7 linked regions of the Homo sapiens genome follow. Changing the gene in region 1 together with any one later gene gives a genetic interaction. Each region holds a gene or a part of one and is shown in the gene's direction. Other genes may lie near its edges.

The links.
Region 2: changes in CIT (region 1) and ERBB4 together harm fitness more than expected from each alone (negative genetic interaction), as found in Homo sapiens cells (one large-scale study listed by BioGRID).
Region 3: changes in CIT (region 1) and PFAS together harm fitness more than expected from each alone (negative genetic interaction), as found in Homo sapiens cells (one large-scale study listed by BioGRID).
Region 4: changes in CIT (region 1) and TCF25 together harm fitness more than expected from each alone (negative genetic interaction), as found in Homo sapiens cells (one large-scale study listed by BioGRID).
Region 5: changes in CIT (region 1) and XRN2 together harm fitness more than expected from each alone (negative genetic interaction), as found in Homo sapiens cells (one large-scale study listed by BioGRID).
Region 6: changes in CIT (region 1) and SEC22B together harm fitness more than expected from each alone (negative genetic interaction), as found in Homo sapiens cells (one large-scale study listed by BioGRID).
Region 7: changes in CIT (region 1) and PTCD1 together harm fitness more than expected from each alone (negative genetic interaction), as found in Homo sapiens cells (one large-scale study listed by BioGRID).

Annotation. Positions count from the first base shown.
Region 1 is NC_000012.12:119,688,821-119,692,320, reverse strand, and holds part of CIT (citron Rho-interacting kinase), read left to right. Parts: intron 1-1,866; coding exon 1,867-2,170; intron 2,171-3,500. UniProt on the Homo sapiens protein: Plays a role in cytokinesis. Required for KIF14 localization to the central spindle and midbody. Putative RHO/RAC effector that binds to the GTP-bound forms of RHO and RAC1. It probably binds p21 with a tighter specificity in vivo.
Region 2 is NC_000002.12:212,528,803-212,532,302, reverse strand, and holds part of ERBB4 (receptor tyrosine-protein kinase erbB-4 isoform JM-a/CYT-1 precursor), read left to right. Parts: intron 1-3,500. UniProt on the Homo sapiens protein: Tyrosine-protein kinase that plays an essential role as cell surface receptor for neuregulins and EGF family members and regulates development of the heart, the central nervous system and the mammary gland, gene transcription, cell proliferation, differentiation, migration and apoptosis.
Region 3 is NC_000017.11:8,252,289-8,255,788, forward strand, and holds part of PFAS (phosphoribosylformylglycinamidine synthase), read left to right. Parts: intron 1-1,570; 5' UTR 1,571-1,649; coding exon 1,650-1,791; intron 1,792-1,877; coding exon 1,878-2,013; intron 2,014-2,738; coding exon 2,739-2,844; intron 2,845-3,213; coding exon 3,214-3,403; intron 3,404-3,500. UniProt on the Homo sapiens protein: Phosphoribosylformylglycinamidine synthase involved in the purines biosynthetic pathway. Catalyzes the ATP-dependent conversion of formylglycinamide ribonucleotide (FGAR) and glutamine to yield formylglycinamidine ribonucleotide (FGAM) and glutamate.
Region 4 is NC_000016.10:89,890,592-89,894,091, forward strand, and holds part of TCF25 (ribosome quality control complex subunit TCF25), read left to right. Parts: intron 1-1,601; coding exon 1,602-1,684; intron 1,685-3,136; coding exon 3,137-3,267; intron 3,268-3,500. UniProt on the Homo sapiens protein: Component of the ribosome quality control complex (RQC), a ribosome-associated complex that mediates ubiquitination and extraction of incompletely synthesized nascent chains for proteasomal degradation.
Region 5 is NC_000020.11:21,306,331-21,309,830, forward strand, and holds part of XRN2 (5'-3' exoribonuclease 2), read left to right. Parts: intron 1-3,500. UniProt on the Homo sapiens protein: Possesses 5'->3' exoribonuclease activity. May promote the termination of transcription by RNA polymerase II.
Region 6 is NC_000001.11:120,152,521-120,156,020, reverse strand, and holds part of SEC22B (vesicle-trafficking protein SEC22b), read left to right. Parts: 3' UTR 1-3,500. UniProt on the Homo sapiens protein: SNARE involved in targeting and fusion of ER-derived transport vesicles with the Golgi complex as well as Golgi-derived retrograde transport vesicles with the ER.
Region 7 is NC_000007.14:99,435,999-99,440,262, reverse strand, and holds the start of PTCD1 (pentatricopeptide repeat-containing protein 1, mitochondrial), read left to right. Parts: upstream 1-1,464; 5' UTR 1,465-1,571; intron 1,572-4,264. Other genes in the region: CPSF4 (cleavage and polyadenylation specificity factor subunit 4), read right to left, coding at 1,078-1,180. UniProt on the Homo sapiens protein: Mitochondrial protein implicated in negative regulation of leucine tRNA levels, as well as negative regulation of mitochondria-encoded proteins and COX activity. Also affects the 3'-processing of mitochondrial tRNAs.

The DNA of each region.
Region 1 (3,500 bases):
ACACTTTTCTTGTTTTAATTTTTAGTTTTAGTTTTTTAGAAGCGGGGTCTTGCCATATTGCCCGGGCTGGTCTTGAACTCCTGGGCTCAAGCAATTCTCCTTCCTTAGCCTTCCTAATAGCTAGGACTACAGGCATGCATCACTGTGCCCGGCTTTTTCAAATATTTTTGAAGAGCCTTCTTTAGGATCCACTGCAAAAGTCCAATGTGTCCAACGTTGGTGTCAGAGCATGTTAGCAGCAATTTTGTTGAGACAATTAGCACAAAACAAATCATTCTGTGATTCATGCTTGGTTCATTTTTGGAATCAGCATGTAATTGCATTGTAATTTAAATACTAAAAATATCTAGCATAAAATAAGTTTATATTCCAAGATAAAGCCTCAATCAAACAAAATATGTTTTCAAGTAATATTCACTGTAATTTTTTTCCTCCATTTTAAGTAGGGCCTTTTCCAAGCACAAATTATGCTGAGATAATAGGGACCCTAGTACTTTTAGAGCTGATCAAGGGTGGGAAAGAATTGACTCAGAAGGCCACATTTCAGTTCTCTCTGTGTTTGTAGGTCTTACTACATCTTCAGAGAGGGAGTTTGGCCCCTGGGTCTGCTGAAATCTTCATTTGAAATATCCAGGCCAGGAGTGGGTGGAGGATTGGGTTGGGTTGTACAAAAAGGCCGCAGTGTTTTCAACTGCTTGGTTACTAATTATCAACCTTTGAGGCCTGGGACGTTTTCTGAGCCCGCTTTACTTTGTCTGCCCTGCTCAGTTTCCTGACTCTATCAGGCCTGATCCCTACACCTCTCGGTCGTCTTATTGTCATGACTGAGAACCATCCACCTTCTGAGCATCTGCATTTGCATCAGGTGTCAGAGACTCTTGGAAAGCCACATGGGGGCAGAGGTGACCAAACACGAGGCCCAGGAGTGGGACAGACATGGCAGTTAACAGTGATCAGTACAGGGTTTCTCCAAACTGCTTCCTTGCACTGAGGGCCTTTGTGGGTCCCTGACTTCTGGGTCTTAGTAGGCTGACCTCCTAGTTGATGACTTCCTTCTGTGCCTTCTAGGCTCTGGGAAATAGTAGGTCAGTAGGATATTATATGGGGCTTATGACATCAAACTGGTCTTTTTTTTTTTTTTTTTTTTTTGAGACGGAGTCTTGCTCTGTCACTTAGGCTGGAGTGCAGTGGTCCGATCTTGGCTCACTGCAACCTCCGCCTCCCCAGTTCAAGCAATTCTCCTGCCTCAGCCTCCTGAGTAGCTGGGACTACAGGCACACGCCAACACGCCCGGCTAATTTTTGTATTTTTAGTAGAGACGGGGTTTCACCATGTTGGCCAGGCTGGCCTCGATCTCCTGACCTCGTGATCTACCTGCCTCGGCCTCCCAAAGTGCTGGGATTACAGGTGTGCGCCACTGCGCCTGGCCTATCAAACTGGTCTTTATTGGAATCCCAGCTCTACCACTCATTAGCTCAGGCAAGTCACCTAACTCCTGTCTGTCCCCATTTTCTTGCCTGTACAGTGAGGGTCATGCTTGTTCATAGCTCAGGAGCTGCTGTGATGATTTAATGAGATAATGAGAGATGGCAGATGAAGAACTTAGCACAGGCCTGGCACACAGTAGGTGCTCAGTAAATGAAAGCCTGCACTGAGGAAGGTGGGTTGTCTTTTGTTGCCATCTTTGCTCTCTTCCCTGTCTTTGCTACCAAAATCAAATGCAGGCAAAGTCCAAAGAACTCCAGGTCTAATCTCTTGATAATCAGTGGTGAGGCTGGGTCAAGGAGGGGGTTGCTCAGGTAAGAAGGAAAATGCCCCTCTGGGGTTGTGGCCTCGCAGCTCCCTACGTTCCTCTTGTGTCGCCAGCAGCCCCAACAAGCGAGGCCCACCCACGTACAACGAGCACATCACCAAGCGCGTGGCCTCCAGCCCAGCGCCGCCCGAAGGCCCCAGCCACCCGCGAGAGCCAAGCACACCCCACCGCTACCGCGAGGGGCGGACCGAGCTGCGCAGGGACAAGTCTCCTGGCCGCCCCCTGGAGCGAGAGAAGTCCCCCGGCCGGATGCTCAGCACGCGGAGAGAGCGGTCCCCCGGGAGGCTGTTTGAAGACAGCAGCAGGGGCCGGCTGCCTGCGGGAGCCGTGAGGACCCCGCTGTCCCAGGTGAACAAGGTGAGGCAGCATTCCGAGGCCTGTGTGTCTGTTGCGGAGGCCAGGAGTGACTTGGGGAACTGAGGCCCCCACGGGGCCACTGTTGTTTAAAAAAGGAACTCCATGACTGTAATTCAGACTTTGCGAGACACAGGAATTTAGGAAGAAAATGTACCTTAAGAAATAGCTTCCTGGCCGGGCGTGGTGGCTCACGCCTGCAATCCCAGCACTTTGGGAGGCCGAGGCGGGTGGATCACGAGGTCAGGAAATCGAGACCATCCTGGCTAATGTGGTGAAACCCCGTCTCTACGAAAAAAATACAAAAAATTAGCCGGGTGTGGTGGCTGGTGCCTGTAGTCCCAGCTACTTGGGAGGCTGAGGCGGGAGAATGGCGTGAACCCGGAGGGCGGAGCTTGCAGTGAGCCGAGATCGCGCCACTGCACTCCAGCCTGGGTGACAGAGCGAGACTCTGTCTTAAAAAAAAAAAAAAAAAAAAAAAAAAAAAGAGCTTCCTAAGCAAATGGATAACGTGTGTGTAATTGAAAAGGAAAATATGTATGCATGTAACTCAAAATATAATAGCTACCAAAAAATGTTTTCCCTTCTCCAGAGGCAAGTGGTAGCAGTTTCTAGAGATATTCTGTGCGTACCAGCAAATATATATGTGTGCTCTCCTTTTGAAACCCAAATGATAGCATCCTATATGAAATGTTGCATGCTTTTTTCAAACATAGATATAGATTCACACACATACACACATATGCTTTTCTTTTTTTTTTTTTCTTTTGAGAGACAGCGTCTTGCTCTGTTACCCCAGGCTGGAGTGCAGTGGCGTGATTATAGCTCACGGCAGCCTCAAACTCCTGGGCTCAAGTGATCCTCTCACTTCAGCCTCCTGAGTAGCTGGGAATATGGGCTGTAGCTACCATGTCTGGCTAACTTTTTCCCCCACTTTTTGTTTGTTTGTTTGTTTGTTTGTTTTGTTTTGTTTTAGAGACAGGGTCTTACTATGTTGCCCAGGCTGGAGTGCAGTGGTGTGATCATAGCTCACCACGGCCTTGAACTTCTGGGCTCAAGTGATCCTCCAGCCTCAGCCTCCTGAATAGCTGCGACTACAGGCTCAAGCCACCATCTGTCTGATTCCCACCCCCACCCCCGGCCCTTTTTATTTTTTTTAGAGACATAATGTCGCTATGTTGCCCAGGCTGGTCTTGAACTCCTGGGCTCAAGCAATCCTCCCACCTTGGCCTCCCAAAATGCTGGGATTACAGGCGTGAGTCACCACGCTCAGCCCACACATGTGTATATATAAATTGTTTTTCTGGAAGGCTACACAGAAAGTGTTCACAGT
Region 2 (3,500 bases), on another chromosome or scaffold:
TGTTGCCTCTACTCTCCTGCACTGGTGTCATAGAAGTCCGGCACTAGAAACCACTGATGTAATCCAGTCATCTTATGTTTTAGGTAAGGAAACTGACAGCGCAAGGAAATTAGATAATATAAACTAGTGGCAGCTCCTGACACCAATATCATTTTCTGTAGCACACATAGAAGTATTTGAAAAACCACTGACACATAAAAAAATAAGGAAACAAATAAAAGGTTATGTTGCATTAAAGAGAATTGAGAAACTGAAATGAAGACAAATGGCTTGGATCCACACTCCTAATTACCATATTGTGTAGTTCTTTCTAAAAGAAAGACAGTGGGATCCTCATGATCATCTTTAATTTATATTTGGAGAGTAATCATTGATTGCATTGATAAGTTATGGCACATGAGGAGTAAAGAAATAAAGCAACTTTTTAAAGACATCGTTCTATAAGAGGATTTCTTTACCTGGTTAGGCCTATGGAGACATAGAATCTTGAATTCCCTAAAAGTCACACAGGAGCCCACAGTACTATCTGTATATAATAGCACTTTTAAGAGTTTCTTTTCTTTCTTTTTGTTTTTTTTTAACCTGGGCTTTATGAAGATGTCCAGTCAGCAGAAAATGCTTATTTTTTCATTTTTAAAATAAGTACTATGAATGCTGAAATAAGATGGATTGTAAAGGATAAACAGTGGGTTCCTCATCACCAGTTAGTTGATGGAGACCTTTAACCAGGAAATCCATGAGAATACTTCAGATTCATCTAGGCCTGTCCTTGGACCTAAGATATGACATGAAATGATAATTTCTATGGTCTTTGTTGGGCCATCCTCTTTCATCATGGCCCTAACTAAGACATAGTTCTATTCTTTGAGCAAGAGCATAAGCAAAGCTTTAAGTACTGACTATAAATTTATTTCTATAGCACCTTTGCCTCACTCTAGTTGGCTTCTGTAAGATGCTACCTCTGGGCCTTTTGACTGCAATATTTTTGACCTAAACTTAATGCTCTCTGGTTGTAGCTGAGTTCCCTCATGTGCCTCAGCCGTCTTGGGCATGATAAGTGTTCTCATGGGCCCATGTGAAAGAAGGGAAGTTTGAAACTTGTTTTGGCAAGAAGAGTCATTTCCTGATAGAAATTGGAGATGAAAGTGGACCCCCGTAAAAGATTAACATAAACACCATGAAACTTCCTGTGCAATATCATTAAGCCTCTCCCATGAGAAGTAACACAGGATCATTACTATTAATCACATTATTTCCAATATTGTAGGGGTTACTGAAGCGTACTAAACACCAATAGGAATATGCAAGATCCAGTTTCTGAGTCCTGAGAGTTAAATTAAAAGGACTCAAGACCGATTGAAGATTTATAATATATTTCATTTCGAACATAGTTTAAATGTGTTGAAAGAGAAGAAAGTGAATGGTACAATAAACACTCTTTTATTTTCCACAAAGATTAGACTTGTAAACAATCGGTTTCACCTGCTAAATCTTTACTGCTCTGCTGACCTTTACTTACTCCTGGTCCCATGTGCTTCTAGTATAGGTGGATATCCAAGTGTTAATCTTTTGAATACAAGTGGGGATCATAAACCTGCTTTCAAAAAATGCGTGTGCTTGTTTTCTCTCCTCTGCTGGGGTTATCTCATGGCTGGTTAGGACTGAAAATAATTGACAACAGATTCTCCAGGCTCTGTGACTATATCAAGTATAGCTGTGACTTGAGCAATAAGTGGCACAGTCTTCTATTTCAGGATGGGTCCCAATCACTATCAAGGGGATGCCTAATAGAGATCATGGGTGGCAGTGACTATTTTGCTCTAGGCAAACTCTTACTGAAATCTTTGTCATTATTTCCTGTCCTTCTCTGTAGGCTTAAAGAATGTGAGAATATGGGTTTCTATAGGGACCTATGAAAACCAAATAAAAATACAACAGGATAATATTTCTTTTATACACATACTTTCATTTTCAGGAATTCCTTTTGTCTGGTAATTTTGTCTAGAACAGAGCAGTTAAATAAGTTTGTTTTAAAGGAAAGTTGACTGCATAGGTATGTTAAAAGCTACTCCCCAAGATTTTTATAAGCATCATCTGGTCCTTAGAAACCTCAGGCAGGGTTATTGCAAGATCCTCTTTATGGGTATTCTTCTTCTTCCACGTCCTCAAACCTCTAAAATCTCCTTCCTGTCACTGTCAGATTACCATTTCTAATATTATCTTAGTTTTTATTCTGAAACTTTTCATGGATCCCTCTTGTAATGTTCAAAGCCTGCTAAAACTGTCTTCAATTTCTTTTTAAATCCATCATAGAGTCTGTTAACATGTACTCTGTCTAAAAACCAGACTGACCTAGTCAATATCTCATGACTATGCCTTCCTTATTGTCCTTACTTTTGCTGATCCCTTTTCCTGGAATTTGTGGCTTACTTGGTGCTTTTACTTGGCCAAACTTTTGAATCTTTTAAGTTTTACTTTAAATTATACGTCTTTGTTACATCTTCCTTCACTGGCTACTCTAGCCAGTAGTCCTTATCAATATCACTTATCTGGCATTTAATCAAACCAACCAATAGTTTTGACTTTTTAAGTACCAATGTTTTTATACTCTGCAGAGACTAATGTGGTGCCACATACATATAAGCTCTTTAAAAATTTTTTTTACATGAATGAATAGCATACATTTGCAGGAACAATTTTAAGCTCGTTCATGAATGGTTATTATTTGTAATTAAACCATATAGTGCACAAAGTAAGCTGTTTGAATAACATAATTATAGAATTCTTAATAATAGCTATTGGGCATGTTTACCCTGCAAATTTCTTTAGTTGCTTTCTTGAGCTTCCTAGGGTATTTCTTCAAGTGGTGTGTTTCTAAGACGCTATCATTCATCCCTATCCCCATTTTTAGAATCTACCCATAAATATGGTGCAATTTCTGTTGGTTTTATTTCTGGCAAGTTAAATATATGTGGAATGTGGATACCACTTTTAAACATGTAAATATTTTGTAGTTCAGTATTTTAATGTTAATGGCTATTATTTTGCTATTTCTTACTTATCTGCCATTTAAACATTTAATCAATTTAAGCAATAAGCATGTACTGATCCACCAGTGTGTATTTCAGGACCATGTTAGGAACTGAAGAGGAAATATAAGAAGCTCAAGATGCCAGCTTTTTCTTTCTTTAAAGAAGAATAGATGAGGCCAATAAAACACAATACAAAAATATGTTATTAAGTGATTTTGCAGACTCTTGGGAGGAATATTTGCCTCCAGATAAAATGTTAATAAATATTTCATGAAAAAGGGTTCCAGATAGAATCTGGCATTTTCTATTCCTAGATATATGTGATAATACAACTTTGTTATAGCTAAGATTTCTCAGTATCTTAAAATAGACAACTAGACATATGCTTACCATTTTAAAAGGATCCTATAAAGGAAGCACTTGCAGTATAACTGAACTGAGAGGTGATGGGGATTCTCTTAGTTGCTC
Region 3 (3,500 bases), on another chromosome or scaffold:
CTCAAAAAAAAAGAAAAAGAAAATAAATAAATAAATAAATAATTTATGACATGATATCATCAAGCAATAAATTCTTAAACAAAAGCTTTGTGATCAGAGATCCTTTTTTGTTTGTTTGTTTTTGTTTGTTTTGAGACAGAGTTTCACTCTTGTTGCCCAGGCTGGAGTGCAATGGCTCGATCTCAGCTCACTGCAACTTCCGCCTCCCGGGTTCGAGTGATTCTCCTGCCTCAGCCTCTCAATTAGCTGTGATTACAGGCACGCATCACCACGCCCGGCTAATTTTGTATTTTTTTTAGTAGAGATGAGGTTTCACCATGTTGGTCAGGCTGGTCTGGAACTCCTGATCTCAAGTTCTCACTGTGTTGCCCAGGCTGGAGTGCAGCGGCTTGATCACTGCTCACTGCAGCCTCCGCCTCCCCAGGCTCAAGTGATCTTCCCACCTCAGCCTCCCTAGTTGCTGGGACTACAGGCACATGCCAGCACACCCAGCAAATTTTTGTATCTTTTTTGAGAGAGATGGGGTTTTTGCCATGTTGCCCAGGTTGGTCTCGAACGCCTGTGCTCAATCCTCCCACCTCAGCCTCCAAAGGGCTAAGATTACAGGTGTTAGCCACTATGCCCCGCCCAATCTGGCCTCTTCTTATAAGGGCAGATTATAAGAGGTTTGGTGAGATTAGTAGCTCATTCTTGAGAGTTCCACTTTCATGACCTAATTACGTCCCAGAGGCCCCACCTCCAAATACCATAACATTGAGGATTAGGGTTTCAATATATGAATTGGGAGGGGGAGATACACAAACATTCAATCCATGGCTGATACCATTTCTCTCAGGAAATTTTTCCTGACACCTGAAGTGCAGGATTGGTGTCCACAGTCCCCTGACCTTCACCACACGGGACTGGAAATGTCTGGGTACTTGGCCTTTCTCCCCCAATAAAATATAAACCCTGTGAGAGCAGACAGAGTTTCTGTCTTGATTCACAGCGGTGTTTCTAAGACCTTGACTGGGGCCCAGCAAAGTGCATGTACTCCAGGAACACGTGTCAGGTGTGTGCCTGTACACCTCCCTACCACATTAATAAAGACCACATTTTGCAAGATTCCTTAAAATCTCCAAGGTTACATTTTTCAGGTTACCTTGTTTCTCTAAATGTCCATATTACTTTCCCCTACCCTATCCATAACGCCGCAATTTTCCTTGAAATCTGAAATCAGTTCAACAGATAGGCCATAGTTAATGTTATTTTTATTTTATTTATTTATTGAGACGGAGTTTTGCTCTTGTTGCCCAGGCTGGAGTGCAATGGCGCGATCTCGGCTCACTGCAACCTCTGCCTCCCGGGTTCAAGCAGTTCTCCTGCCTCAGCCTCCCTAGTAACTGTGATTACAGGCGCCCGCCACCACACCCAGCTAATTTTATATTTTTAGTAGAGACAGGGTTTCACTATGTTGGCCGGGCTGATCTCCAACTCCTGACCTCAGGCAATCCACCTGCCTCAGTCTCCCAAAGTGCTGGGGTTACAGATGTGAGCCACCACGCCCGGCTTAGTTAATGTTATTTTTTAGGAACCTAATTCATCTCTCCAGCAAAGGACACATCTCTCCAGCAAAGGACACCTCTCTCCAGCAAAGGACACCTGCAGAGATGTCCCCAGTCCTTCACTTCTATGTTCGTCCCTCTGGCCATGAGGGGGCAGCCCCTGGACACACTCGGAGGAAACTGCAAGGGAAACTGCCAGAGCTGCAGGGCGTCGAGACTGAACTGTGCTACAACGTGAACTGGACAGGTTGGGCCCAGGTATTAGATTCTTGGGGGACATGCCTCGGTGCTGGGGGCAGTGTCTCAAGGTGTCCTTGCCCTGTCTCCCTGCAGCTGAGGCCCTCCCCAGTGCTGAGGAGACAAAGAAGCTGATGTGGCTGTTTGGTTGCCCCTTACTGCTGGATGATGTTGCTCGGGAGTCCTGGCTCCTTCCTGGCTCCAATGACCTGCTGCTGGAGGTCGGGCCCAGGTAAGTATCTCATCCTGCCCACCCCTTTCTTCTGCTTTCCTTTGCTTCCTCTTGTGATCCTTGGGAGATTTGCTTTTCCTTTGCTCTTTGCTACTTCCTGCCTAGGAAACCACACATGTGCTTTCCCCATTTGGGTAGATCCCTCCAAAGACCTAGCCTGCTCCAAAACATGTTCTCAAAGCAAAATAAATTAGATTCCAAGTTAAAATCAAACAGTTTTGGCCAGGCGCGGTGGCTCACGCCTGTAATCCCAGCACTTTGGGAGGCCGAGGTGGGGCAGATCACGAGATCAGGAGATTGAGACCATCCTGGCTAACACGGTGAAGCCTCGTCTCTACTAAAAATACAAAAAATTAGCCGGGTGTGGTGGCGGGCGCCTGTAGTCCCAGCTACTAGGCAGGCTGAGGCAGGAGAATGGTGTGAACCCGGGAGGCAGAGGTTGCAGTGAACCGAGATCACGCCACTGCACTCTAGCCTGGGCAACAGAGCAAGACTCTGCCTCACAGAAAGAAAAAAAAATCAAATAGTTTTGATGCTAGAGGACAGTTTTGGTTTGGTTTGAGTGTACTTTAAAAGCAGGTTTCTTGTTGCCCAGCCTGAGGCTGAAAGCCAATGGTGAGGGGATAGCGGTGGGAGGTTGTCCAGACAGCAGTAGGCAGGATCCACCCTCCCAGCTGAGGCCTGCCGGGGGTTCTCCAGTCCTAACCATCAGGCCCATTGTTCAGGCTGAACTTCTCCACCCCAACATCCACCAACATCGTGTCAGTGTGCCGCGCCACTGGGCTGGGGCCTGTGGATCGTGTGGAGACCACCCGGCGCTACCGGCTCTCGGTGAGGTGATGGGGAATCAGGAGGAGGAGATGAGCCAGAGATACAAGATTAGATCCTAAGCTCTAGAGAGAAGCAGGGACAGGTGCTCCTGGCTTTAGGCCTGCTCTGTATGGTCGTACAAGTTGTTCACTGCCTGAAAGTACCTGGTTGAGGGGTAAATGGGGCAGAAATCCAGCCTATGCTTCCTTTAATTTGTGCATCCTGGCATGGATTCATACCTGGAAAGGGCGTCTTTTTGTAATCTGAGAAAAAGTGCCATATGGTGTGGCAGTGGGCTAGCCTTGCATGACTAAGAGGGTAGGAAGGTGGACCATTTCTCTCCATTCTTAAACTCTTCACCCCTTGCCCTCTGTGTGTCTGCACCCCTAGTTTGCCCACCCCCCGTCAGCTGAGGTGGAAGCCATTGCTCTGGCTACCCTGCACGACCGGATGACAGAGCAGCACTTCCCCCATCCCATCCAGAGTTTCTCCCCTGAGAGCATGCCGGAACCCCTCAATGGCCCTATCAATATACTGGGTGAGGGCCGGCTTGCGCTGGAGAAGGCCAACCAGGAGCTTGGTGAGTAGCTGGGGAGGGAGATGTAGGGTCCAGGATAGGCCAGTAGGGGTGCTGAGATCTGGAATGTGGCTGCCTGAGTTCCATAGTCACCTCTTCC
Region 4 (3,500 bases), on another chromosome or scaffold:
TTTCTTCGGGAATATTAATTAAAAATAGACTTTAAAATGTCACTTTGTCATCTGCATTTCTCTGAGCTGAGGGTTCCACCTCGTCCCACCCTTTGTTTGCATCTGCTTGGTCTGTCTTGGTCATTTCTTTATATTTTTGCATGGTTTTATTTCTGCAAATTATAATTATTAATAGTAATTAGTATTATAACTGTTAATACTGATTACTCGTAGTAATTAGTTGACAATAATTGCCTTTATTATTTTTATAGTATTATTAAACTTTTTTGTTTATTTATTTCTTTAAAAATTTAAGTCCTACCAAAAGACTTACATGGAGAAGCCACAGTTTCCTTTTTATTCATTCCTTGTCCTGCTCCTCCAAGACAAAGACCTGGCCTGTTTCCATTTCTCCTTCTGGTGGTTCTCTCAGAAGCTCAGAATAACAGGCACTGCTTTCTCTTGGGTCCTTGACTTCCTACTACGACAGCCCGGTCAGCTCATCGCCCCCGCACTTCAGCACACTCCTCCCATTGCTCAGGGCGCCTGCCAGCCTTCAGAGCTCCTCCAGGCTCCTGTCCCCTGCCCCCTCCTGGCATCTGCCCAGGCTGCCTCGTTGGGTCTGTTCTGGAGGCTTCCTTACTTGTTTTGTGGGATAGCTCACCGCAGGTCAGGCCATCCCTGGGATTCTGTACATCTGGCCCAGGAGAGTGCTGAAGGGCTGACTCTCCTAGGCCTGGGCGTGTGCTACAGGCAGGAGAAGCAGGCTGGGGCCACCTTCATGTCAGGAGGGCCCACCACACTGGCCTCCACTCTGCGGTGGCTGAACTGTGGGGAGCCCGGGGCCAGGGCAGGGATGGCCCCGTGGGAAGGGAGCTGCACCGTGCTGATGGTGACCGTGGGCATGGCTGCTGCTGTCTGTGCTGCCGCGGCTGCCACGCCCCACCTGTCTGGTGCCTGTGTGCTCAGGCAGAGTGCCCTGACCTCTGTTATTTGGGGGTCTCTGCCACAGGGGTCAGGCCCACTCTAAGCACTGGTCAGCTGGTATCTGAGCTGGGCAGGTGGGGCAGCATGGAAAAGGCATGGAGCTGCTGTTACCTCAGAGATGGTTGGTTTCTTAAGTTGAGTGATGGGCATGTGGATATTAGTACGTTGTTCTCTTTCTTTTCGTTTTCTTTTTTTATTTTCCTCTTGAGACAGGGCCTTGCTCTGTCGTCCAGGCTGGAGTGCTGGGATCACAGGTGCAGGCCATCACGCCAGGCTAATTTTTAAAACCCTTTGTAGAAATGGGGTTTTGCTGTCTTGCCCAGGCCAGTCTCGAACTCCTGGGTTCAAGAAATTCTCCCATCTTGGCCTCTCAAAGTGCTGGGATTACAGGTGTGAGCCCCCGTGCCCAGCCAGAATTGTTTCTTTCTCTCTATGGGGCCCTCCCTGCTGCACCCGTCCCACAGCAGTTGCTGACGCTTGTTTGCATCCTGTCCTTAATGCGTCCCCACCCTGCCCCACATGCCTTCTCTGCCCCTCAGTTTTGCTTCCACAGCCCGTGCAGGGATCAGGCAGCCAAGCCTTGGTCCCCACACGCCACAGGAAGTAAAGCTGTACCTGTGTCCCGTTCTCCCCAGGCCACGGCAGAGACAACGTGTGTACCCCAAGTGCACATGGCTGACCACCCCTAAAAGCACCTGGCCCCGCTACAGCAAACCAGGTGAGGGTCTGCAGATGCTGCTGGGGATGGAGGGTTGGGGGGCGTTGTCTGTGCACTGGCCCCGGTACAGCAAACCAGGTGAGGGTCTGCAGAGGCTGCTGGGGGTGGAGGGCGGCGGGGGGGTGTGTTCTGTGCACTGGCCTGCGCTGGGCACCAGGGGCGTCAGTGCCTCTTGAGCCGAGACTCTTTGCTCCAGGAGCGCTCCAGGAGTGTGCAGTGTGTGACTGTTTGTTGCCACACTGAGGGCCTGAGTGCTGGAGGCCTGGCCCAGTACCTCAACACGGAGCCTCCCAGGCACAGTCTTTGTGTGACTGTCTTTTAACGCAGGTTCTTCCTACCATTCTGCCATCGACCTTTCCCTTATGGAAGCAATCGAGTTCATTTTAAACTGCAATATTTTGTATATTATTGCAAACTAATAAGTGATTTTAAGATGAATTGCAACAGTGAAGACAGGCATGGAGTGTTGGGTGCTTGGTTGTGTGGTGTGGGGAAGTGTCAGGAGGCCTTCCACACTGGCCTCCACTCTGCAGTGGCTGAACTGTGGGGGCCCTCAGGGGCCAGGGCAAGGACAGCTTGTGGGAAGGGAGCTGTGTGGTGCCCTTGGTGATCGGCATGGCTGCTGCTGTCAGCGCTGCCATGGCTCCCACGGCCGCTTCTCCTGCGCCTGTGTCTGTGGGGGTGCCGGAGATTGCCTGCATACATTCTGTAAGGACACATCTAGGAGCGAGGCCTGTGCTGTCAGAAGGTGAACCCCGCTGCTCACGGCCCCTTCCCTTCCTGGCAGGAACCCCTGCTCACTGCAGACAGGGGTTCCATGGCCATGTATTCCTGCAGGACTGGGGCCTTGGGCAGGGCCATCAAGAAGGTATCACTACAGGGGACCTAGTCCATGGAGGTCCTGGGAGGCTGAGCTTTCCAGGTTTATCAGAAGAAACTGGGTCCCATACACCCAGTCAGACAAGAGGAGCCAAGTGAGAGGGTGGTCACACGTTACAAAGCTCTGTGGCTTCAGAGGCCTGGCGCTGTGGCCACCTGTGCCACCGCACTCCAACCCTGTCCTTCCACAGCCACCCCGGACATTCTCCTCAATCAGACGTGGTCTGGGGACAGTGCTCGGCGTGGTCAGATCTGGCGATCTGTGGACTGTGTGTGTCCTTGTCCCTGACATTCCCTCCAGGCCAGTGGGGCTAGAGCTGTATCCGAGTTCTGGAGGCAAACACGTCTTGATAGGAAACTAAAGCAGACGGGATGCCGTCTCCTGGTGTAGACCAGACGGCGGGTGTTTTGGGAAGGTGTCCGGAGCTGGTGACACCCATGAGTACACACTCAGGTCAAGTTTGTCGATATCGCAGAGGCCTCATCCAGAACACCACGAAGGTGAGGGCTGTGCTCGGAGCTGCCCACGTCCCTGCTCCCGGCACACCCTCCCTGAGCACTCTCCCCTCCCAGGTCTGTCCATGCGGCTGCTGGAATCAAAAAAAGGCCTCTCCTTCTTTGCGTTTGAGCACAGTGAGGAGTACCAGCAGGCTCAGCACAAGTTCCTGGTGGCCGTGGAGTCTATGGAGCCGAACAACATCGTGGTGCGTGGTCCCTGCAGCCCCTGACAGGAGCAGGGGCCATGTAGCCACCACTGCCCTGGGCCGCCTGCTTCCCTGGTGGCTGGGGGAGGCATGCTGCCTCCTGCCCTTCCCAACAGGAAGGGTGCCAGTCTCTGCAGGGCGGTCTGGCCCTGTGACCAGAAGGAGATGTGTTCGGAGGCTCTAGGCCAAGCGAGCTCCATCCATACTCAGAGGAGAGGCTGGAGCGCTGCTCT
Region 5 (3,500 bases), on another chromosome or scaffold:
CACCATGTTGGCCAAGCTGATCTTGAACTCCTGACCTCAGGTGATCCACCAGCCCCTGCCTCCCAAAGTGCTGGGATTACAGGCATGAGCCACCGCACCTGGCCAGGAATTCCAGTTTTAATATTAGGTTCCCTCAGAACTTTGAAAGAAATTGTTCTTTTGTACTCTCTCATCTAGTAGTGTTGATGACAAGTTCGGTGTTAATGTGATGTATTTATTTAACCAGCAGTTATATAGCATTTACCATTGTTTTAAGAACTTTATTATAACTTGTTTGATCCTCACAACCACATGACTTCTACTGTTGTAATTATTTTTATTACATACAAATAATAGAAGCACGTTATTTGGAGACAACCAATATTGTTATTATGTTATAATAATTACTATGTTTATTGGCCGGGTGCGGTGGCTCACGACTGTAATCCCAGCACTTTGGGAGGCTGAGGTGGGTGGATCACGAGGTCAAGAGATCCAGACCATCCTGGCTAACATGGTGAAACCCCATCTCTACTAAAAATACAAAAATTAGCTGCGCATGGTGGCGCGCCTGTAGTCCCAGCTACTTGGGAGGCTGAGGCAGGAGAATCACTTGCACCCGGGAGACAGACATTGCAGTGAGCCGAGATCCCGCCACTGCACTCCAGCCTGGTGACAGAGCGAGACTCCATCTCAGAAAAATAATGATTATTGTTATGTTTATTATTATTTCAGATGAGAAAATGGAAACACAGCAGGGTCGCGTATCATACCCAAGGTCACTCAGCTGATAAATGTCAGAGCTAGTGTGGAAACCAGAAGGACTTAATTTTTATGCTCATATGCTTTCATTCTTTTGTGATCAGTTTTCCTTCCTAGATTTTAAAAAGATCTTTTTCTTGATAGTGTAAACTTTCATTATTAGGTACCCAGGTATAGATGTTATTTTAAATTCAGATTCATTTTGATCAGTACGTGGCTCACTCTTTGAGTCTGGAGTCTTACGTTCTTCGGTTTTAGGGAATGCTGTTTGATGATTTCTTGACCTTTTTTTCTTCCCTTTCCAGACTCAGGATACTGGTCCTCTTAGACTCATGTATTTTTATTTTTATTTTCTCTCTCATTCTCTGGCTTTCCTTGAAACCTCCCCCAACCTTTGGTGTTTTTGCAGCTTTGTTGAGGTATACTTGACATAGAATAAACTGCAGGTAATTAAAGTGTACAATTTTCTTTTAACTTTTTTCGAGTTGAGGTCTTGCTCTGTCACCAGGCTGGAATGTAGTGTGCAATCATGGCTCACTGCAGCCTCAAAGTCCTGGGCTTAAAGTATATAATTTAATACAGTGCATACATCTGTGAAACCAGCACAACCAAGACAGTGAACGTGACCTCTAAAACATTCCTTCTGCCCTTTTGTAGTTCCTTTCTACTATCCCTCCCTGCCACCTGTCTTTTGCCAACCACTGACTGGTTTGCTTTCTGACCGTATGATAAGTTTTCATTTTCTATAATTTTTTATAAATGAGATTATATAGTATATACTCATTTTTTGCCTCAGTTACTTTCATTCAGTATACTTATTTTGAAATTCTTCCGTTGTTGTATGTGTCAGTAGTTTATTTCTTTTTTGTTTTTATTTTTTTTTGAGATGGAGTCTCGCTCTGTCGCCCAGGCTGGAGTGCAGTGGTGCGATCTCGGCTCACTGCAACCTCCACCTTCTGGGTTCAAGCAATTCTCCTGCCTCAGCCTCCCAAGCAGCTGGGATTACAGGCACATGCCACCACACCCGGCTAATTTTTGTATTTTTAGTAGAGATGGAGTTTCACCATGTTGGCCAGGCTGGTCTTGAACTCCTGACCTCAAGTATCTGCCTGCCTCGTCTTTTAATTTTTGGATAGTATTCTGTGTGTAGATACACCACATTTTATTTATTTATTCAGATGATTGATGAACATTGGGATTGTTTCCAGTTTTTGGCTTTCTGAAAAAGAAACCTATGAACATCTCTGTACAAGTCATTGTAGGGACGTATGCTTGCATTTGTTTGGGGGAAAAACATTAGGAGTGAAATGGTTGGATTGTATATTAGGTGTGTGATTACTTAAAAAGAAAAACCTGCCAGACTTTTTTTTTCAAACTGGTTGTGCCATTTTACATTGGCATCAGCAGCATATCAGGGTTCCAGTTGCTCAACTTCCTCACCAACACTTGATATAGTTAGCCCTTTTAGTTTTAGGTAGTCCAGTGTACTGTTACCTTATTGTGGTTTTAACTTGCATTTCCTTCAGATGCTTATTTGCTTTCTGTATATCATCACGGGCAGGGTGAGGCATCTGTTCAGATCTTTTGCTCATTTTTATCTTCGGTTGTCTTACTTAAATGTAGAGTTTGTTACATATTCTAGATAGAAATCCTTAGTTTGATATATCTTTTGCAAATATTTTCTCTTGATCTGTGGCTTGTCTTTTTACTTCTTAACAGTGTCTTGGGAGCAAACATTTAAAAATTTTAATGAAGTCTGATTAATTTTTTCCCTTTATATTTCTGCTTTTTGTATTTAAGGAATCCTTTGTCAAAGCCAAGGTCTCCTGTGTTTTCTTAGAGAAGTTTTATAGTTTTACTTCATTCTGTGGTTTCCATTTTTTGGTCTAGTCATATGGTGAATTATCGGTCTTTAAATGCTAAAGCCACCTTGCATTCCTTGGATAAACCTCACTTGATCATGTTGTATTATTTTTATATACGTTGAATTCAAGTTTGCTAAAGTTTGCTAAAGTTTTCTTGAGAATTCTTGAGAATTGTGTCTCTGTTCACAAAAGATATTTGTAGCATTCTTGTAATGTGTAGTTGAGATGTCAGAATAATGTTGACCTCAAATTGAGTTCCTTCAGTTTTTTGGAAGAGTTTGTGTAGAGTTAGTATTGTTTCTTCCTAAAATGTTTGATAGAATTTACCAGTGAGGCCATCTGGACTTGGAGTTTTGTGGGAAGGCTTTAAGCTGCAAATTAAGTTTCTTTAGTTGATCTAGAACTATTGAGGTTACCTATTTATTTATTTATTTATTTTTTGGATGAGCTTTTTTAGTTTGTATCTTTCACAGATTTTGCCCATTTCATCTAAGTCAAGCTTGTCCAACCTGTGGCCTGCAAGCTGCATGCAACCCAGGATGCTTTGAATGCGGCCCAGCACAAATTCGTAAACTTTCTTAAAACATCATGAGATTTATGCACAGACCTTTTCTTTTTTTTTCAGCTCATCAGCTGTCGTTAGTATTAGTGGCCCAAGACAATTCTTCTTCCAAAGTGGCCCAGGGAAGCCAAAAGATTGGACACCCCTGATCTAAGTAGTTGAATTGGCTGACATAAAGTTGTTCATAGTATTTTCTTACTATCCTTTTTTTTTTGTTATTAAAATGTTTTCACTCCTGTTTTTACTTCTCTTTTGTTTTCTTTTTTCTTCCTGTTAACTTGTTATTATCCTTTTAATATTGTTAGAATCTGTAGTGATGTTACCTCTTTCAT
Region 6 (3,500 bases), on another chromosome or scaffold:
ATCTATGTAGTTAATTAAAGTTAAAGTTTTTGCAGATCAACTACTCAAACTACTAAATACATTTACCTGAGAAAAAGTCTCTGAGAGCACTTCATTCCTGTTTTAGTTCGTGTAAATTCTCTGAGAATGTTCTGGAGATAGATAACTCATTTACAGTGGTTTCTATTAACTAATTAAAGTACCCATGATTTTTTCCTTTTCTGCTCAGGGATGATGGAGATTTCCTTTTACCTTCTGAGGTAGAATTTTTTAATGGGGAAAATAGGCCTTTTAAATATTATTGCCAGGGTCTGCAATATAACTTAAAATTCCTGTACATACTGCAAATATTTCTTTAAATTGCACAGGAAAATGAGCGAACTTTTTATTTCTTAATATCTTTGGCAAAAAACTTTAACCAGTAAGCAATTTTATAACCCTGAGGGATCATCAAAGATACTATCCTGATTCCTGGTAAGGAAAAATATATTATTTCCTTATAACAAGGCAAGGAGAAATGCTATTTTATTCCTGATAATTTATATAACTAGAATAATTTTTTTCCTTTCTTTTATGGACCTAAATCTGCCAATTGGGAATTTTGTGCATGAAATATGAAGTTACTTTTTATAGATAATCAGTGCTTTTAAGTCCCTAAAAGGCTCCTGCTGAAGTAATGATGATGTTAATAATAAAAGCCTTTGAAAGGCTGAAAACCTACATAGTGGTACCATAGTATTTGGAGCTTCTATAGGAGTGGAGAGGGGCAGCTCATTGTTGAGAGTTGCATGCTGCAACCTAATGGTCAGCAATGAAATAAATACTTGTAGAATGTTCACTTCAGTGTGAAGTTTTGTTATCTAGTTAATTTATATACATATATCCTTTGTAGATACATTTCTATCTAATCTTGTTGGGCTAATTAAGAAATAAGGGGTGGGGTAATTGTCAACAAAGGGAGAAGAAAGTGGTTTAAGATCAGGGCAGCAGAAAAATTAGAGAACAAGAATATCATAATATGGCTCCTGGTTTTCTTTATAAGAGGCAGTGGGAAGATCTGACTAGATGAAATGTATCATCAACCAAACTGGCATCTAAAATAGAATGGGATAAATACTGTATGGGGTTATTGGAGGCATATTAAGAAAGGACACCTAATTTATTTTGGGAAGAAGTATGTTAAGAGAAGACTTTCTAGAGAAGGAGAATGGGGCATTCTAGGAAGAGTCAATGGCATGTGCAAAGGCATGAATAAAGACAGTGAGGCATATTTTGGAAATGTAACAGCTTGATTCAGCTTAGCCCATAGGGTAAGCATAGACAACAGAGGAGACTTGAGGAATGAGAACTAGATGGGTACACTATCATAAAGGGACTTGTCTATCATGCTGAGGAGTTTAGACCATCTTAATGGTAGTGGCCAAGGATGGCATCAGATTTATAGTTTCAAGTGATCATAATATTGGCATAAAAGATATATTAGGGAGGAAGCCTGAAGTAGGGAGATGAAAATAAGGAGCCATCAAAGGCAGAATGAAACTTAGGCAGATTTCAAGTGATTTTCAAAAATGTTGTGATCAGAGGTACCAGATAATAACTATTACATAACACTTTCTTTGTTAGGAGCTTATTTCTCACACTGACCAAAGCTTTTGAAGTAAGTACTCTTTACACCACTATATAAATAAACCTTACAAAGGATTCTGCTTTGAGGCATGAGAGAGTTAAGTCATTTGCCCAAAGTCACAGAGTTAGAAAGTAATAGAGCTAAGATTTGAACCTAGGCAGTTTGGCTCCAGAGTCTGTGCTCTTACGCTATATTACCACCAAGAGGTCAAATAAATACCAAAGAATGTATTTTCGAATTTAACAATGAGGAACTTAATCATACAGGCAGAAGTAATTCCAGAGCACTGGAGACAGAAGCCAGATTGCCATATGGGTTAAAGAGTGTGTAAACCACTAGGAAGTAAAGACATAGAACTACTCTCACAAGTGCTTTTCTGGTTATTGTGACGCTGAACTTCATGGCTTGTTTTAATTAAGACATCTTACAAGTGTCAAAATTTGGAAATATTTGGACACTGTACACTCTGGTTATTTAAATATCTAACAATGGTTCTTGAGCATTTTGAGAAACCTTTGAAAATCTGATGAAAGGTATGTGCCATTACTCTAGAAAAATGTTCCTGTGTACATGCACATCAAGTATCACATACTGTTTCAGGCTGTTCAAAGACTACAAAGTCTGTTCATGACCTAATGGTCCATGTTCCCTCAGTTAAGAGCTCCAGAGATAAAGGATGTGGAACTCAAAGGTAAGTACCCAGAGCCTTGAAAACTCCATCTGTGACTTGGAAGAATTCTACAATTTGAATTAACTTTGTGGAGAGAGATATATTTTTGAAAAATTGTGTGTACCAAAAAAATTTCATATCAAATAATATTTTCCTGTAGTGCATTCAAGGATCTGGTTCCACAGCAAAAAATTGTTTTGGTCTCAGTTCCTCAAAATCACATTTAAGGAGCTTGAGATTTATATTTTCTACTTAATAAGTCTTACAAAAGCAAGTTAAGAAGGAAAATGGACAATCATTTCTGCACATATAGGGTTTAATAAAACATGTATAATAAAATATCTCATATTTTAAATTTCCACCTTATTGGTAGCTTTCATGACAAAGGGCTAGGGTGCTGATGGCCATACAATTAAGGTTTTTGGTTAGTTAGTTAGCAGAACTAACTGACTCCTACCTGGTGGGTTTTTCTTTTGTTTGGTTGGTTGGTTGGTTGGTTTTTTCCCAGATGGCTCAGGAGGAAGGTAAATAGCAGTCATTGTATGTGTGACAGAGTTTGAGATAGAATGAGCATATTGAATCTCACATCCTATTCTTATTACTGTCAGGCAGCGTTGACCTAGCAGTATAAAACTATCTGAAGCAATGTAGTCACTCAGTTCTCATAAAGTTTATTTCAAGTACTGTAACAATTCATGTTTGGATTAGAAAAGTCACTAGAAATTTGACTTCCATATAGTAATCTATACTTTTTTCTCTCATTTCCTTCATTTTTTGAGCCGTAAGTGTAAGGCATTTTGCTGGTATTATTACAATGGTTATGAGGAGTTTCTTTGCTTGCCCAAGGTCACATAGCTAGCAAGTTAAAGTAGATTCAAATCCAGGCCTGCTAGATACCAAATTATTATTTAAGAGTACTTTTCACTACTCCTAAATAATGACACAGATACGTTTGTCTTACACATTTCACTTTATTGTCAAGTTATTAGTATGTTTATTTTCAAAAGTTATTTTTTGCAATTTCTTTTTATTATTCCGTACTTTTTAAATTTACTTCATTATCACGTCTTCCTTTATTCTTTTTAAATAGTTTTTGCTTTTGTTATTTTGTTTTCCCTTTTTTACTCTTGGTTTGTAATACCTCTTTCCTTATTTGCTCCTTTCTCATTTGATCTCAATGTTAATCCAACTGTTTTCCACATCTGATTCACTAAAATTTTAGCC
Region 7 (4,264 bases), on another chromosome or scaffold:
GGTGGGAGACCCCGCTGGTAGTTGTGGGCGACAGCACACAACACTGGAGAGCTTGCCCGCCTCTGCTATGCACTGAGTGATTGTCAGCAAGTCCCTTCCCCCGCTTGGGTCTCAGTTTCCCCATCTGTGGATTGAACTCAGTGACTTCCACAAGCCCCCAAACTTTAAGGTTATAGCATTAGATTTCAAGTATGTCCAGATAGGAAAGAAGACACAAAGAAAACTACTGGTTTCTTTTAAAGTACAAGATATCCCACCGAGTAGGAGGTGGGAAGCCAGGAGCCACCATATGAAGGGGAGCAGTGAAGGGAGTTCAGGCCAAGGGTCCACACCAGCTGCTGGGTGTGATGAATAACTCAGAGTTGGGGTCCAGAAAAAAGTAGGGACGGGCCAAAAACTAGGGATGAGCTCCCAGGAGAGTGAGTCCTAGAAGGGAGTTTGAGAGTCTAGCTGGGGTCTCCTACAGAAAGGTGGTCCTTCCCTCAGCACATCTCCTCCAACCGCCTAGTTTTGATGAAATCAAGAAGAGACGCTCAACGTAGCGGGTGTGATATCCTAGTACTCTCCTGCAGTTGGGAGAGTGTTGAGGGAGAGTTCCAATCCAGGATAACCCACCCTTATTCAAGAATTAAGCGAACAGACAAGGTCTACCCTCCTACAGATTACCTTTGAACAGCCGCAGAGGGCCAAAGATCCGAGGCAGTGAACTCCTGAGTCCGAGTGAGGGTAAAAGGAGTCCCCAGACGGTGGAAATGGGGGCCTGGGAGTCAGGAGTCCTGAAACCAAGGGGAGCGTCCCGGGATCCAGAAGAGGAGGTCTCAGGATGGAGTGGGAAGAGTCTCGGGACCACAGATGAGGGAGTTCGGTAACTAAAGGGGAGGATCCCAGGACCCGGAGGAGGTGGGAGGGACTCTCAAGACCTAGAGGGAGGAGTCCTGCGACCAAAGGGGAGGGGTCCCAGGATCCAGAGGAAGCCGGGGGAGGTCTCAGGACCGAGGCGAGGGAGTCCCGGGATCACAGAGGAGCGGGTCCCGGGTTCGAGTCGCTCTTGCCCTCCCGCCCGGGCCCCGCGCTCACTGTCCATGCCGGGGAAGGGCAGCGGCTGCGCCCCCAGCTGCTGCTCCACCGCGATCTCCAAGTCAAACTTGATGTGGTCCACGCTGGCGATGATTTCCTGCATGGCGGCGGCGGCGGCCCCACCGGCCCGGCTCCCCCTCGGTCTCCTGCAGCCTTCTCGCCTTTACCCGCCGCCGGCCCCGCCGCACACACTCCTCCTTCGCTTCGCCTCGCCGCCGCCGCCGCCGCCGCCCGAGGGATGCCGGGAGCGCCCGGAGCCCGCGCCGGCCCTTGCGCCTGTCCAGGCACTGCCAATCGAGACTCCGCCGTTCCGCTAGTCCCAGCTAGCCGCCAGCCGAACACCGGCCTCGCCAGAAACCTGAAACCAGCCGCGTGAGTCGGCGACGCGGATTGCGCCTGCGCGCTTGGGGAGAGGGGGACCCGAGGAAGAGACTGGTTCGCCGCGGGGACCGGGCAGGGCTCCCCGTCGGAGTGCACTGCGCCGGACACTTCAAGTGAGTTCCTGTGTGATCCTCGCAGGAGCCCCGGGACCCGGGCCAAGACACGCCAGAGGGGAAGGAAGTGCCCGAGCCGGGATTGGAGCCGGGGGCGTCTGAGGAGGGAAACTGAGGCTGCAGAAGTCCGTGTGGAGAGGGGTCGGCGTTGGCCTGAGGGTCCGGGTGGGCCTCTGAGGAGGGGCGGGTCTCTCCGAGGAAGGACGGCCGCAGCGTGTCTCTAATTCAGGGTTTTTTCTCGCTCTGTGGCCCAGGCTGGAGTACAGGGGTACGATCATAGCTCACTGCAGTCAACTTCTCAGACTCAAGCGATCCTCCCACCTCAGCCTCCCGAGTAGCTGGAACTACAGACGCTGCACCACCACACTTGGCTAATTTTTAAAATTTTATTTTTAATTTTTGTAGAGACGGCGGGGTTGGGGGGGCGGGTGGCGGGTCTTGCTATGTTGCCCAGGCTGGTCTCGAACTCCTGGCCCCAAGCCCAAAGCGATCCTCCTGCCTGGGCCTCCCAAAGTGCTGGAATTGCAGGCATGAGCCACTATACAGCCTAATTCAGGGTTTTTTTTAACCAGGGTGGGGTAATGAGCTTGTGTAGGAACAAAATGCACCCCTATTTTTCTCTATGTGAAGTATAGCATTTCCTTTCCTGATTGCTGGAGCAGCCTTAGCAGTGCCTGAAACTGTGAGGGTGAGTGTAAATGATAGTTCCAGATAACAGTTTGTGCAGGGCCAGGCATGGTGGCTCACACCTGTAACCTCAGCACTTTGGGAGTCTGAGGCGAGAGGATCACGTGAGGTCAGGAGTTCGAGACCAGCCTGGACAGGATGGCAAAACCCCGTCCCTACTGAAAATATAAAAATTGGCCTGGAGTAGTGGCGCGTTCCTGTAATCCCAGCTACTTGGGAGGCTGAGGCATGAGCATGGCTTAAACCCGGGAGGCAGAGGTTGCATTGAGCCGAGATTGTACCACCCCACTCCAGCCTGGTGACAGAGTGAGACGCAAAAAAACCCAGTTTGTGCAGCAACTACAAGGTGGTATCTTAAGCTGTCACTTACATTTATTACTGCTTTGAAATTATGATAGAGTCGGCCGGGCGCGGTGGCTCACGGCTGTAATCCCAGCACTTCGGGAGGCCGAGGCGGGCGGATCACAAGGTCAAAAGATCCAGACCATCCTGGCCAACATGGTGAAACCCTGTCTCTACTAAAAATACAAAAATTAGCTGGGCTTGGTGGCATGCGTCTGTAGTCCCAGCTCCAGGGGAGGCTGAGGCAGGAGAATCGCTTGAATCCGGGAGGCGGAAATTGCAGTGAGCCGAGGTCACGCCTGAGGACAGAGTGAGAGACTGTCTCAAAAAAAAAAAAAGAAAAGAAAAGAAATTATGATAGGGTCTTGTTATTTCATGCATTGAAAATAAGCATCTATACTAGTATAGCAGAAATTTGTTTTTAAAGCATTTTGATGCCATTTCAATATCATTGCTTTTTGTTTTGTAATTCTGTGTATTGTAATTAATGCACGTAAGGCAGGGCATGGAGGCTTACGCCTGCAATCCCAACACTTTGGGAGGCCAAGGCTGGAGGATTGCTTGAGGCCAGGAGTTCTAGACCAGCCTGGCAACATAGGGAGACTCCATCTCTACAAAAAAATACAAAAAATTAGACAGGTATGGTGGTGTGCACCAGTAGTGCTAGTTAATTGAGAGGCTGAGGTAGGAGGATCACTTGAGCCCAGGAGTTGGAGGTTGCAGTGATTGTGCATTTGCACTCCACTGTGCCATCGCACTCCAGCCTGGGCAACATGAAGACCCCATTCCACAAAAAAGAAAATTACATAAACACCATGCTTGTAAGAAGGAGTGGCAGGGCTTGCCAGATGCAGAATGATAAAGGCCCCCTGCACTAGTTTCACAAAAGGTGCTGGTCAGGACAATCATCAATGCGTTACATGGACCTGAGTTCAAAGCCAGCCCAGCCCAAGCTGGCCAGTCTCACCCACTGCACTGCTGCAGGACCCCAGCAAGTCTCTCCCCTTGCTGGGCCTAGTTTTTTGTTTGTTGTTGTTGTTGTTGTTTTGAGATGGAGTCTTGCTCTGTCGCTCAGGCTGGAGTGCAATGGCGCGATCTTGGCTCACTGCAACCTCTGCCTCCCACGTTCAAGTGATTCTCCTGCCTCAGCCTCCCAAGTAGCTGGGATTACAGGGGCACGCTGTCACGCCCAGCTAATTTTTATATTTTCGGCAGAGATAGGGTTCACCACGTCAGGCTGGTCTCGAACTCCTGACCTGAGGGGATCCACCCACCTTGGCCTCCCAAAGTGCTGGGATTACAGGCGTGAGCCACCGCTCCTGACCTACTGGGCCTAGTTTTTAATCTGTTCAATCTGCCATCACTTGTAAGACTTTTCCAATCGCAACCTTCTAATATAACCAGACTCTAAAATACTTTAGGCTGGGCATGGTGGCTCATTGCTGTAATCCCAGTGCTTTGGGAGGTCGAGGCGAGAGGATTGCTTGAGTCCAGGAGTTCAAGACCAGCCTGGGCACATAGCAAGACCCTGTCTCTACCAAAAAATAAAATTAGCCAGGCATAGTGGCTCACACCTGTAGTTCCAGCTACTCGGGAGGCTGAAATGGGAGGATCGCTTGAGCACAGGAGGGTGGGGCTGCAGTGAGCTATGTCTGACCTGAACC